Regions from separate parts of the Homo sapiens genome. Here regions 2, 3 and 4 are each reported to be linked to region 1. The links are microRNA targets in miRTarBase. Many come from high-throughput screens and were not tested one by one. Region 1 holds a microRNA gene; each other region holds the end of a gene's coding sequence. Distances are between the middles of the regions.
The links. Region 1 holds the annotated microRNA hsa-miR-149-5p (UCUGGCUCCGUGUCUUCACUCCC, at 878-900, opposite strand). A microRNA usually pairs through its seed, bases 2 to 8, with sites in the 3' UTR of a target mRNA and lowers its output. Matches are read on the target gene's strand: a 7mer-m8 pairs with bases 2 to 8, a 7mer-A1 pairs with bases 2 to 7 and ends in A, and an 8mer does both.

Region 2: the mRNA of FBN2 is a reported target of hsa-miR-149-5p. The part of its 3' UTR that is shown has no 7-base or 8-base seed match.
Region 3: miRTarBase lists KDM8 as a target of hsa-miR-149-5p. Seed matches in the 3' UTR shown: 7mer-m8 at 1,782-1,788.
Region 4: the mRNA of TMEM237 is a reported target of hsa-miR-149-5p. The part of its 3' UTR that is shown has no 7-base or 8-base seed match.

The regions. Positions count from the first base shown.
Region 1 is chr2:240,453,804-240,456,914 of GRCh38, reverse strand. It overlaps MIR149 (microRNA 149), which reads right to left and starts at 914; the gene lies at 826-914. The region is part of intron 1 of GPC1 (glypican 1); the gene reads right to left. It overlaps GPC1-AS1 (GPC1 antisense RNA 1), which reads left to right and starts at 215. Exons shown (of 3, transcript NR_161169.1): 1 at 215-318. RefSeq lists an enhancer at 964-1,614.
Region 2 is chr5:128,256,875-128,259,985 of GRCh38, forward strand. FBN2 (fibrillin 2) reads right to left here. Exons shown (of 65, transcript NM_001999.4): 65 at 1,035-2,955. The coding sequence ends at 2,581. Among named protein-coding and RNA genes, the nearest start is that of SLC12A2, 170 kb to the left of the region's middle.
Region 3 is chr16:27,220,308-27,223,418 of GRCh38, reverse strand. KDM8 (lysine demethylase 8) reads right to left here. Exons shown (of 8, transcript NM_024773.3): 7 at 2,934-3,026; 8 at 1,651-2,853. The coding sequence ends at 2,689. Among named protein-coding and RNA genes, the nearest start is that of KDM8, 18 kb to the right of the region's middle. RefSeq lists an enhancer at 339-1,024.
Region 4 is chr2:201,621,630-201,624,629 of GRCh38, reverse strand. It overlaps TMEM237 (transmembrane protein 237), which reads left to right. Exons shown (of 13, transcript NM_001044385.3): 13 at 308-3,000. The coding sequence ends at 375. It also overlaps the pseudogene ENO1P4. Among named protein-coding and RNA genes, the nearest start is that of CATSPERT, 4.0 kb to the right of the region's middle.

The DNA.
Region 1 (3,111 bases):
GAGAAGGGGTGCTCCTTCCCCACTCCTCACATGGGTGGGAAGGCGCCCTCAGGCAAGAAGACTGGGACACAGGTACACTCGCCAGGGACCATCCTTCACTCTGCAGCCTTTATTCACTGATGGGATTCTGCCCCAGTCCCACCCCCGTGGGGGCAGGATTTAGAGCAGGAACCGCCCCTCCGGGTCCTTTCCTGGGGCCTGTGCCAGGCTGAGCAGACTCAGGAGGCGTCTCTCCGAGGGTGTGGGCTGTGATGGGGCCCTGTGCACCCATCCAGGCTGCCCAGACCAGGAGAGCACAGGTCAGCCGGACACATGATGGTAATGGGCTGGGCAGTGGGAGGGAAACGTGCCTGGGGGAGGGGGTGGCAGGTGCCAGCTGAGCTTCCCGGTGACACACCCTGGGCTCAGCTGAGATGGGCTCAGCTGTGACGGGGCACCCAGGCCAGGCTGGCTGGGCCACAGGAACCGAGTGAGCTGGTCCAAGACTCAGGACTAGGGCTCAAGCACTCCTAGGGAGGAGGGTGGGTGGCGTCCCCCGCCGGCTCCTCCTGTGCCCCTCCCTCGCGAGGTCCCGGCGGACCCACTCCCCAGCCCCCACCACGCAGACGGGAGAGGCTGACGAGAGGCATGGAGAGGTGAGGCCCGAAACACCCGTAAGATATGGGAGCTCCCCCCACCTGCAGGTTCTGAGGGGCTCCTCGGCGCCGTCAGCCACCTCTCACACCCCCTCACGGCCGCGCACCGGCCCCCGCGCCTCAGCCTCCCCCGCCGACCCCTCAGCCCCGCCCGGCCAACTCGCCCAGCCGGCCCGGCGACCTGCGTTGTTCCAGCTGCCCCAGCACAGCCCCCGTCCCTCCCTCCCTCCTCGGACAAGCACGGGAGTGAAGACACGGAGCCAGAGCTCGGGCGCCGGCCTGGGAGCCCCCGGCAGGCTGGACGCAAGGCGGGCGAAGGCCTGGGAGCCTCGGGCAGGCTGGATCGAGGCGGCCCCCTGAGGCCCGCTGCAGGCTGGACGCACGGCAGTCAAAGGCAGGAGGCCTCCCGCTGGCTTCCTTCTGCGGAGCTCCGGCCCGGCGCAGGCCGGGGCCACAGGTTGTGGTCCTGGACATGAGATGGCAGAGGCCGGCTCTGCAGAGTCCCCCTGCAGGGCGGCAAAGCAAGCCCCCTCCTGGAAGAATGCCAGGGGCTGGGGCCTTTCTGAATGGAGAGCAATGTGCCCAAGACCAGCTGTCATCTTAAATCTCCCCACCCAGGGGCCTCCCCACCCCCAGGGGCCTCCCCACCACTTCTCTCAGCTCAACACCTGGGGATAGAGAGGCCTCAGGCCAGGAGGGAACCCTCCCCATGTCCCTCTCCCTCTCCTTCCTGGCCTTTCTCCTCCTCCAACCCAGAGGGAGGCATTTTCCAACCTAGGGGGTGAGTCCCGGCAGCCCATCCCCTTCCCCCCGTGCAGGGAGGCATCTGGGCCCTTCCGGCCCACCCCTCCCTCTGGCCCTGGGGCTGCTCAGGTCAAGGTCACCGGGCCTGCTCCCCGCTGGGCCAGGGACTGGACCCTCTCTTCCCTGATCCCTGGGCTGAAGTTGCTGTAGCCGACCCATCCTTCCACAGCGCTCCCCTCCCTCAGTCACTGGGACACTTCCCTTCCCCAGTGCTCTGAGGATTTTTTTGGGGGGGAAGGGGATTATTTGTTTAATGGCAGATTCATCCCCCACCTCAAACCCAGAGTCTCCAGTTCCCAGGCTCCTGCTCCTCAGGTTAAAGCACAGAGCTCTTGCTCCCTGGCTCGTAGGCAGCTGCTGTCTCGTTCCATCTTCCCCCTCCCGATCCTGACGGTTCTGGACCACCCCACTCTGCTGCTCCTCACTAAGCCCCCACCAGCCTTAACTTTGGATACCTTTTAGGTCATGCATTCTCGTCCCCTGCTGACATGTCCCCACCCCGCAGTTTCCTCTTGGTCATCAGCACCTTCACCCCAAAGCTTTAGGCGAGACTCCCATCCTGACAGTGGCCCCCATCCCCAATGATGGACCCAGACCTCATTTGTCCAGACCCAGCCTGGCAGCTGCCCGTGACCAGTGGCTCTGGAGCCCTCCCAAGGAGAATGCAGAGAGATGATGGCGCCACGCCACGCCCATCCCTCCAGAAGCTTCCACGGCTCACACAGGAGGTGCAGACTGTAAAGCCGGCTTTATCCACCTTTACAGCCTCGTCCTAGACACTCAGTGTCAACAGACTCGAATGCCTAAGGTACCGGAATTTGGCGTGGACAGTCAGCCTGCATTGCCTCCCACGGTGCTGGAGTAGGGCTGTGTGCAGAGCTCCAGGCACCGCAGCCCCCCAACACGCAAGGGAAGAGCCTAGGCCTCCCCGCTCCTGCCCTCTACTCAGCTCTGCACCCGGCAACGGGGCCTTCCTGGCTGGCCGATGGCTGCGAAGGCTTTCCCCAAGCCCGAACCCTCTTCTCGAAGCCTGCCCCAGCCCCTGGCCCATCTGCTCTCGGACCCCAACCAGCTCCGGTGGCTGTGGCATCCTCCGGCACGTCCAGCAGCCTCCTGGGGTGAGGGTGCACTGGACAAACGACCCAGGGGGTTTCCTGGGGACCACCCACTGCCCAGGCTGCAGAGGATCTTTTCCTCACTTTTGCCCCATCCTCTAAGAAGCCTGCGCCCCTGGCCAGTCCCTGTCCGCCTGGGCTCCTGACGTCTGAGCCAGAGGCAGCCTTGGCCCCACCTGCGAGGTGGACCGGCCACGGCATCTCAGCTCCTCGTCAACGGCATCCACGGCCCCCAGACTCACCCCATCGTGCTTCCCTCCCCTCCCCACACCCCTGCCGTCTGCCCGAAGCCCCCCCGCCACCATTTCACCCAAATGACAGCGTCGCCAAGGAGCCCCTCCGCCGCCGCAGAACCTCCGCCGCGCACTGCGACCCGAAACCGAGGGGCGTCGTAGGGACACCTCTGCCCCGGGTGGGAGGGTCCGCGCCCCAGGCCGGCTAAGGCTCCTGTCACCCGCGGCTGCTTGCGAGGGCGACAGGCGTGAAACCGGCCCCGGCGGCGGAACAAAGGCTCGGCGGCACCGGCGGCAGCGTCGCCGCCCTGGGGGTCCCGGGCG
Region 2 (3,111 bases), not on the chromosome of region 1:
AAAAAAATGGCAACAAAGCTACCAAAGGTACCTGAGACATTTCCTCCTGGAAGGAGTGTCTTGCAGTGGTCATTTCCTTCTACTTCATTCTTCTCTTAAACCCCTCATCATTTTTTATCTTCTACGTAAAGCACCTAAAGATGTGGATTCTCAAACTTCTTTAAGAGCCAGTTAAAGGTAAATTAAATGTTGTTGCTCAACTTTCAAGGCTAGAGTCAAATTTGGTTCCAGGTAATTTCATATTACAATACTCATGCTGTACCAATAATAGATGCCAGATGAAACTGAATATGCATGTTAAGTTTTAAAGAACGCCTTGAGGCAAATACTTTTCTTACTCCATGCAGCTAATTTCTGATTGGCAAAGAACAGCACTAAGATCAGTCACAATATTTCCTTGTTTACTTATTCCTTGGATAAAAAATTTAAGCGCATAAATTCTTAAACCATGTATTAAATTAATCTCTAAGAGTCTTGGAAACATTTCTGTGCCTGTTTTGGCAGTGTATCAAAAGGGAGTTCATGCTAAATACTTTGTTAAATCTATCCACTTCTCCAGTGAATAAACTGTATACCATTTTAAGAGATAAGGTTTAGATTATTTTTGAAAATGCCTTTTGGCCTGGGGTATGCCCGCTATTACCTTTGCTTAAAAACTTGGGTTCAGGAAATTTCTACCTTAGAGAAGTAAGATTCTCTAAAAGAATGTTTCACTTCCTCATGGATACTTTATGGGGGCATTAGCATGAAGTGAAGAAATTCTTTGAAGTTTCCAGAAAGATGGGTCCCAGGAAGCTTAGAATTTATGCATAAGTAAATGACTTTATGTCCTTCTATTTGAATGTAACTTCAAATCATAATCATCAGTTGAACACATGTTGACTTTGCTTCACAGATTTGCCAGCATTCCTTTATTTTCCTGTGTGTCTGGCTCTCTATTATTACTTCAATACAGGTTCCCATAGACAAAGCCCCCAGCCCCTCCCGCAAATACAACAGGCGTTGTGGTCTCATAAAATTTTCAGTCAGAAAAATACCCCAAAATAAGCTTTATTGCAAGAAAAGTGTCATATTTGATACACAGACCTACAAAAACAAACAAAACCAAAAACCATAAGTTTTTCCTCACAAACTCTTGATTACAAATTTACACTGTTCCTTTTTTCTTTTTAGTTATTAAAAAAACAATAAAACCTCAAAATACTGGGTATAACTGGTTACTAATCTTTGGTCAGCACAGGTTTGAGAGGAACAACCAGGAGCCTGCATGTGCTTTGGCCATTTCACATATGAGGTTTGGTCACTGGTCCAGGAAACAGGTTCTTGGGTTGAGAAGAATAATGGATACGTGCTCTTAATAGCACATCCTGGTACAATATCTTTTTAAATGACTAAAGCAAACTAAACATCAATTCATTGTACAAACATCTTTCATACACAATAGGCTATGATAAAATGAGGCATATGGTGTATAACTACAGTATTAATGAAAATTCTAAAAAAAAAATGGGTTTAAAACAACAACAACAACATATATTCCTTGGCTGCATTGCATGATTTGTTTGCACATATGGCAATCCTGAAATAACTTGAACATAATAAATGCACCATTATTTAAGACAGCACGAAACACCACAGAATGCCAGGTGTTCCCTTTCAAGGGAACGGCGGTTCTTCAGCTGCCTACAGTACCATGAGGACGCAGCGCACCCTGGGTAAGAATGAGGTGTTGTGGGTAGCACATATGGTTCCTTGAGGTTATGAGAAGGAAATACAGTACGGTTTGGCCTGCAATGCTAATGGTCTCACAAGCAGTCAAGGTATTTTGCTACAGTGGTTGTGCTTCAACTTCTGTTGCCTGGTGTGTCTGGTGATATGAAATGTTGTCACAAATGAGCTGCTTTGGCTTCGATCTACGTTATAAAGGATCTAATGACATTCATGTTTTTTAAATTATTGATTACACTGCCCATTCAGCTCTGTGTGGCTTTCTTTAAAATCATCAGGTGTGTATCAGCTGGATGACTGGCAGAAAACCAAAGGAAACATCTCTTGTATCTATTGGATTTTTAAAAAGCACCTCTAAAAAAAATAGCTCAAATTTATAAATCTAAAGAAAAACAAGTGAGTTTCCCTTTTTGTTTACATAGTTTGTTCATTTCTCCATATATTACTGCATTAAAAATAAATAAACATCTATATTTTTTTAATTAGCAACTATAGCAAAATACCCAAAGTGTTACAGACTGCTAACAGGAAAAAAAAAAAAAGCTCACATTATTTTTGTGCATTTAGTGCCATATGCTGATATCTTGAACATTTAGGTTTCTTTTAATATATTTTAAAATGAAGTTATATAAAAAATACAGTAACCACGGTTGCCTTTGTGCTCAAATCTTTGGCCATACCAGAGTCTAAATTATCCCTCCCTGTGAGGGTCAACATTCAAAGTCTAAGACAGGGAGGAAAGAAACAAGAGTTATTATTATTTTTCCTCTTTAAAATTAGTCCTTGACTTTTCAAATGCTTCTGCAGACTGGCTGTGCTAGGATTTGAGCCTGGGCCCAAGTCTGTGAAGGGTTAATAGAGCTGAATCTGCAGCCTCATTCTGAGAGCCTCCCCAAGCTCCCCTAGGAGGTAGTCATCCTCATTGCTCTCTTCCAGTTTCTTAAGCTCCTTCTTCTTGTAGAGAGGGATGCTAGTGATTTCCAGTGTGTATGTGCCGGGCATGAGCTTCTTCTTGGCCGTGTGCAAGTAGCTGAGCCCATTCCTTTGGTGGATGCGGAAGACGCTGTCATCGTTCCCTTGAGAGATGACATAACGGATGTGGTTGTTGAGGGGCTGGATGGCGGGCCTTAGTTCCAGGATGTGCTCCTTAGAGCCGAGGTGGGAGAGGTTGAACTTCATGTTGACGGGGCTGTCCATGTCGACACTCTCTAGGCTGATCTGTTCAACCTGGAGGAAGAACAGGAAATGATTTGGGACAAGCTTCTACAGCACAAGCAGAGGACTAGAAAGAGATCAGCTGCAGGGGCTTTGGTCACGAGGACAGGCTGTGGCTTCCCACTCCCGCTTTCTGCACTCTCCTTACCAGCAGTGGCTGTGAAAGAG
Region 3 (3,111 bases), not on the chromosome of region 1:
GGGGACCCAGCCCAGCCCTTCGTCAGTGGGCAGAGACACGCCCATTGGTAAGCCCAGTACGTTCAGCCACTGCCAGCCCCGGCCGGCCTCACCTAAAGAGGGGTTTTTTGGAAACGTATGAGGTGGCTTGCAGAAATGACAGGAAGGCAGGACCAGTCTAGAATGGGAGACCTTGGAATAAGGGTCATGGATGTCAAGACAATTCTGTCACTGCGGGCGCTGCTGCCACAGGGGGTCGGCTCCAGCCTGTCTGAGCTCCTCCCGACACGCCCTCAAGATGCCGGTCCAGGGAGGAGCTGATGTACAGACCTTCCAGGACCGCATCCCTGGGGCAGAGGTCATTCTCCAGAATGCAGTCAGCTTGCCGTTCTGGAAGACGGGAAGATGGACGCCAGAAGGCAAAAAGCCAACTAGCAAATAATGCCTGCAGGAGGGGCCGGGGCAGCTCCGGACTGTCCCAGTTGTCCTGTGGTTCTGGCTGTTCATTCTTTGAGCTCGAGTCAGTCCTGGCTGGGGACTCAGGAAGCCTCTGGGCACTTGGCCACTGGGGACACCAGCCCTCCTGCTGCTTGTCTCTCTTGCCTCCAACCCCTGCATGATAACACCGACATGAACGTCCCACAACGCACACTAGCACTCACTCAAAACCCTCATGAGGAGTTCCAGATGCTGCGTGTCCTCACCCACAGGGCAGGACATTTCCCCTTTTCCCATTCCTCATCTGACAAGGGACATCTGCTTGAAGCCACCTGGCCAGGATACCACACGTTAATGAACGTGGCCTCCCGTGCCCAGCTTTCTGTCACGCTACACTACAGATGGGCCGTGGGGCTTGCCAGCTGGAGCGGCTAGGCACTGGGAGCTGGGGCCACAGTCCACCTGTCCTTCAGCTGGGGAAGGGGTTTGAGTTACACAGGCGGGCCAGGAGTCACAGCCCACTGTGGCCGGGCCGCCACCCCTCCTCACTAATGGCGAACCTAGTCATGAGGGCGTCCCTGTTTTATGCCTCGCTACTTTCAGGGGTGTTGACATCTGGTGTAAATTCTTCCTGTGAAAGATTAGGTAATTCACTATTAACCATGGCAGGGAATAAACAATGTCCTTGCAAACAGCTGCCCACGGAGCCAAGTGGACTCAGCTTCCAGATAGCTCTTGTGTTTGTCACTCCCCAGCACGCCCATGGCCCCTCGGCAGCCCACTCCCAGGATGAGTATCACGGCCTCTCCCTGCCAACAGCCAGCTTTCGAGAATGCAGATTCTGCTGTGTCTGCTCAAAGGCTGAGAACCCCAGGACCTACACGATAAAGTCAAATTCCTTGGCCTGGGTAGAGGGCATCAGGAGCTGGAGTTCAGCTGCCCACAGCCACTTTCCCATCCCCCTTCTAGTTACCCCAGGGTAGCTACCTCCTGGCCAACCAGAATCTTTCCTGGGGCTGCTTGATTTTTGGCTAAAAGACAAGCAGCTGAGCCAGTGGCAGGATGCTGGCAGGATGGCAGCTCAACCCTCAGGGCTCTTTTCCCCAGGCCTATCTTAGAAGCGGGGAAGAAAGAAGCCAAGGCTGGCATGTGGCTCACACCTGTAACCCCAGCACTTTGGGAGGCCAAGGTGGGAGGATTGCTTAAGCCCAGAAGTTCAAGACCAGCCTGGGCAACATAGCAAGATCCCATCTCTATTTAGTTTAAAAAACAAAAAACAGAGGGCTGGGGAAAATCTTAATGGCCAAAACATAAAACAAACCTGCGTGCACACAAACGAGACACAATTACAGAAAGCATAGAGCCTGGCTCTCCCCCTGGCCTCAAATCCCCCAGGTTTGAGAGTCATTACTTCTGGGGGATGGTGACTAGAAGGTGGTAGGAGGGAGGCTTCTAGGAGCTGGTGATGGTTCGGTGGTTTCTTCACTTGGGAGCCTGCTCCTGGGTGAGTGCGGGTGAAAAGTCATCCAGCAAGACCTTCGCACTTCTCTGCAGGCAGGTAGGTTATCCTTGAGCCATGGGGATGACAGAAAGCTCCCACTGCTCAGCAGGGGTCCCGGCTCCTGCGCAGGTCTCTACGGACTCTCTCCTGTGACCTGGGCAATGCCCAGCTCTCTCCAGTATTCAGGCTGTGGCGTCCAGCAGGCCGTTATGGGAAGGAAGGGCAAAAGGATCAGAGTAATTGGGATCAGTGACAGCGGCTAAGGTTCATGCAGCAGCAGGGGCTCGGCACCGCCTTCTCGGCCCTCGGCAGTGAGGACTGGCCTTGCCCTCTTTTCCATATGGGCACAGCGAAGTGGGGGATCCTGGCCAAGTCACCCAGCAGGTGCACAGCGCGGCCGGGTTTGAATCAGGTAGCCAACCTCAGAGCCCATGTTTCACCCCTGCCTGTGTGACCCACCCGTTTCCCAAAAACATTCGGCTTTCTGATGCCAGAGTCCCCATGCAGGCTGTCTGTCTGCAATGTCCTTCTGGGCTCTCCCCACCTTCCTCTGCCATGCACCCCTGGCCTGGAGTGTGCTCCTTCCTGGGCAGCCCCTGCTCTGTGCCTGTCCAGTGCTGGAGCTCAGCCCCCCAGGGCTGCCACTGGGCAGTGAAGGCTCTTCAGGACACAGGTTCAGTCCTGCTTGTCTCTATAGATTCCAGGACCCAGGAAATTAGTGAACAGATGAATGCTGTCTGCATGTCAGGCCCTTTCAGCTCCTATCCTGGCTACGACCACCAGAAGCTGACCGAGAAGCTCAAATCCAGAGCCCGCACGTAATGCCAGTATTTCACCGGGATGAACAGGATCTCTCCAGGAGACAGGATGCAGGACAGGAATGGGGCCTTGGCAAACTTGGGGAACTTTTCCAGGTCGGGATTCTCCACGTCAACCTGAAGAAAGCAAAGGACGTCATCATCTCCAGGGGCAGTGGGGAGAACCTGCAACGTCACCCCAGACCCCCAGTGCCCACCTGGCTCGTGTTATGGAGAAGGTGCGTGTCATGAGGGTACAGAGCCCCTGACTCCTGCGGGGAATACAGCCGGATGTACTTCCTCCCCATCACCTGGGGAGAGAGACCCTGACAGTCAGCTGGTGGCCTCACTCCACTGCTGCCCCAAGCCCACTCTGGCCTCTGTGCCCTTCCACAT
Region 4 (3,000 bases), 39 Mb from region 1:
TTTAATGATCTTTGATTCTCTAAGTGACTTAAATTTCCAGGTAGGATTGTGTATATTGTCTCTATTACATTTTACTTTTAAGGGGTCTATAATTTAAAATTTAAATATTTTAAAATGTAAAACTTGTACATTTGTTATCAGCTTACCTTTTAAATCATATTTCACTGTCAAGAAATCTTACTTGAGGGCTTTCTATTAGTATATATTATGTCAATTTTTTAAAGGACTATTTATAAATAAGCTATACAACTCTGTTGGAGGTACTGGGAAACAATTTTAAGTATGATCTGTTCATTTTCTTCTCCAGAGTTAATGTTCTCCTCAGAGGTGGAAGAATATCCTGATAAAGAGAAAGAAATCAAAGCCTCTTCATAATACCAGCTCACCTTTGGAGGAATAATGACCCAGTATTTGTCCCATTTTTGTTTTTAAATGTATTTTTATAAGATGTATACATGTGTATTTGTAATAGATTTTTTGATTATATAATACTGAAACATCTCTCAATATTATGAAAAATGTTAAAATTGTGTTTGCTGTTTATGTCTAAACATTAATTTGTCTAGCATTATCATCTTAATGACAAAGGGAATAATGAACTAGAAACCAGCAAGTGAAAGTGTTTATTTCCTATTTTCTCAAAACAGTTGTATTTATAACTATTACCTTAAAAAGCACTGGTTTAGAAAAAGCCATAACTTAAATAGTGTTATAAAATATATATCAGGTTTAAACATAAATTTAGCGAATATGGTAGAAGGGAAAAAAGCCTTCATTTTTGACCTCCCCTTACTGAATAAATTGAAATATGAAGTTTGTCTTTTCTGAAACTGGCTTAGTGATTGAGTATCATGTAATAATTATAATATAATTTAGCTTGAAAGATGCTCTACATTATGACCAATAAAAAGGGAATGTATGTTTTGTTTGAAAAATTATATAACCTAAATTTTTTACCTAGAAGTAACTAAAAAGTTGCTTCTCATTATAATCTGTACTAGTGGTTCTCATATCTGGTTGTACATCAGGATCATAGAGGGAGATTTTAAAAATCTATGTAGCAAAAGAGGCTGAGCAGGGCAAGGCTCAGGGGAATAAAGGAGAGACCTGTGAGCTTGTGGGCTCCCAGTTGACATCTGCAGTACCCTTTCCTCTGTCCCTTTTTTCTGAGTGACAAGAAATAGGAGTAGAAATTCACCATCTCTGTTCTCCAGCTCTTTGTCAGAGAGGTTTCTGGTTTTCCAGGAAATCCCCCTCTTGAGATGGGTCCTGCACTGGGAAAGATCTCTTCAGAACTATATCCAATGGTACCTCAGCTGTTGTATATGAGACCCTAAAGCTCAAGTTGAGGAGAAGACTAGCTATGGGAAAAAATGTTTCAAAGGCTGTTGAGCACATCAATAAAACTATTGAGCCTGCCCTGATTAGCAAGCACCTGAATGTTATAGAACAGAAGAGGATTGACAAATTGATGATAGAGACAGTTGACCCTGACAATAGGTCTAAATTTGGAGTGAACATTATACTGGGAATCTCTTTTGCTGTTTGTAAGGCTGGAGCTGCCGAAAAGGGATTCTCCCTGCTGTCACAGAATTGTGAATTTGCTGGCAATTCTGAAGGCATCCTGCTAGTTCCAGCTTTCACTGTGACCAGCAATGGTTCTCAATCTGGCAATAAGCTGGCAGTATAGGAGTTCATAATCTTCCCCGTCAGCAAACTTCAGGGAAGCCATGCTCGTTAGAGCCAAGGCTTAGCACACTTGAGCCGTGTCATCAAAGAGAAATGTGAGAAAGCTGCTGCCAATGTGGGGGATTGTGGTAGGCTGCATAATGTCTCCTAAAGATGTCCATGTCCTAATCCCTGGAACTTGTGAATATACTACTTTACTTGGCCAAAGGGATTTGCAGATATGATTAAGGTTATGAACCTTAAAACGGGGACATTATCCTGTATTATCCAGAAGGGTCCAGTGTAATCTTATGAGTCCTTAAAAGCAGAGAAGAAAGCCTTTTATGTCTGTGGTCAGAGAGGTCAGAAGTTATGATATTGCTGGCTTTGAAGATGGAAGAGGGGGCCATGAGCCAAGGAGAGTGATGACCTTGCAGCTGAGTACGGCCCTTGGCCAACAATGAGCAAGGAAATGGATTTCAGTCACATAACCACAAGGAACTGAGTTCTATGAGTATCCCAAATGAGCAAGGAAACAAATCCTCCCCTAGAGCCAAGAAAGGAAGGCAGCTCTGTGGATACCTTGGTTTTGGCCTGGTGCTGCCCATGTCATACTTTTGACATACAGAACTGTAAGATAGCAAGTGTATGTTGACTAAGCTGCTAAATTGGTGGTGATTGCTTATGGCAGCAATAGAAAGCTATATATCCTAGAGAATAAAGAAGGCTAGAGCTGCTGTGGAATGCACTTGGGAAAGCTGGCTACATTGATAATATGTAACTGCCATGGGCATAGTTGCCTTTGTATTCTTCCAGGTCTGGGAAGTACAACTTAGACTTCAGATCTCGTAATGACCCAGGAGGCATATAAACCTGAGCAGCTAGTGGCCCTGTACAAGTCCTTCATCAGGGAAAAACATTGAGTATTCCCTGATTAAGGACTTGTACAGAGGACTCTGTTTTCCCTGGTGTTTCTGGTGTGTCTCAAAAATTGTTTGACTGTGATGACAGGGAAGTTTGGAAGAAGTTCACTGCTAATGCATGTCTCCAGGAAGCAGGGAATGATCTCACAGTGACACTTGAGGCACATTGCTGAGGCCGTCGATGAGAATTCATGTAACTTTCTCCAGCTTACAGTGGACTAGATTGACATGCAAGCTGATCCAGTCCAATTGGTAGGGCATCATGGTTTCTCATTACTCACTGACTTAAAATACTTTTATTGCCATCCTGGTGAAGCACTGCACTGGGTAGATAACACAGGGGCACCTTGCTGATCAGAGCCCTTGGCCAGGTACAAAGAGCTCAGTTTCTAAAACTCTGTCATTTCAA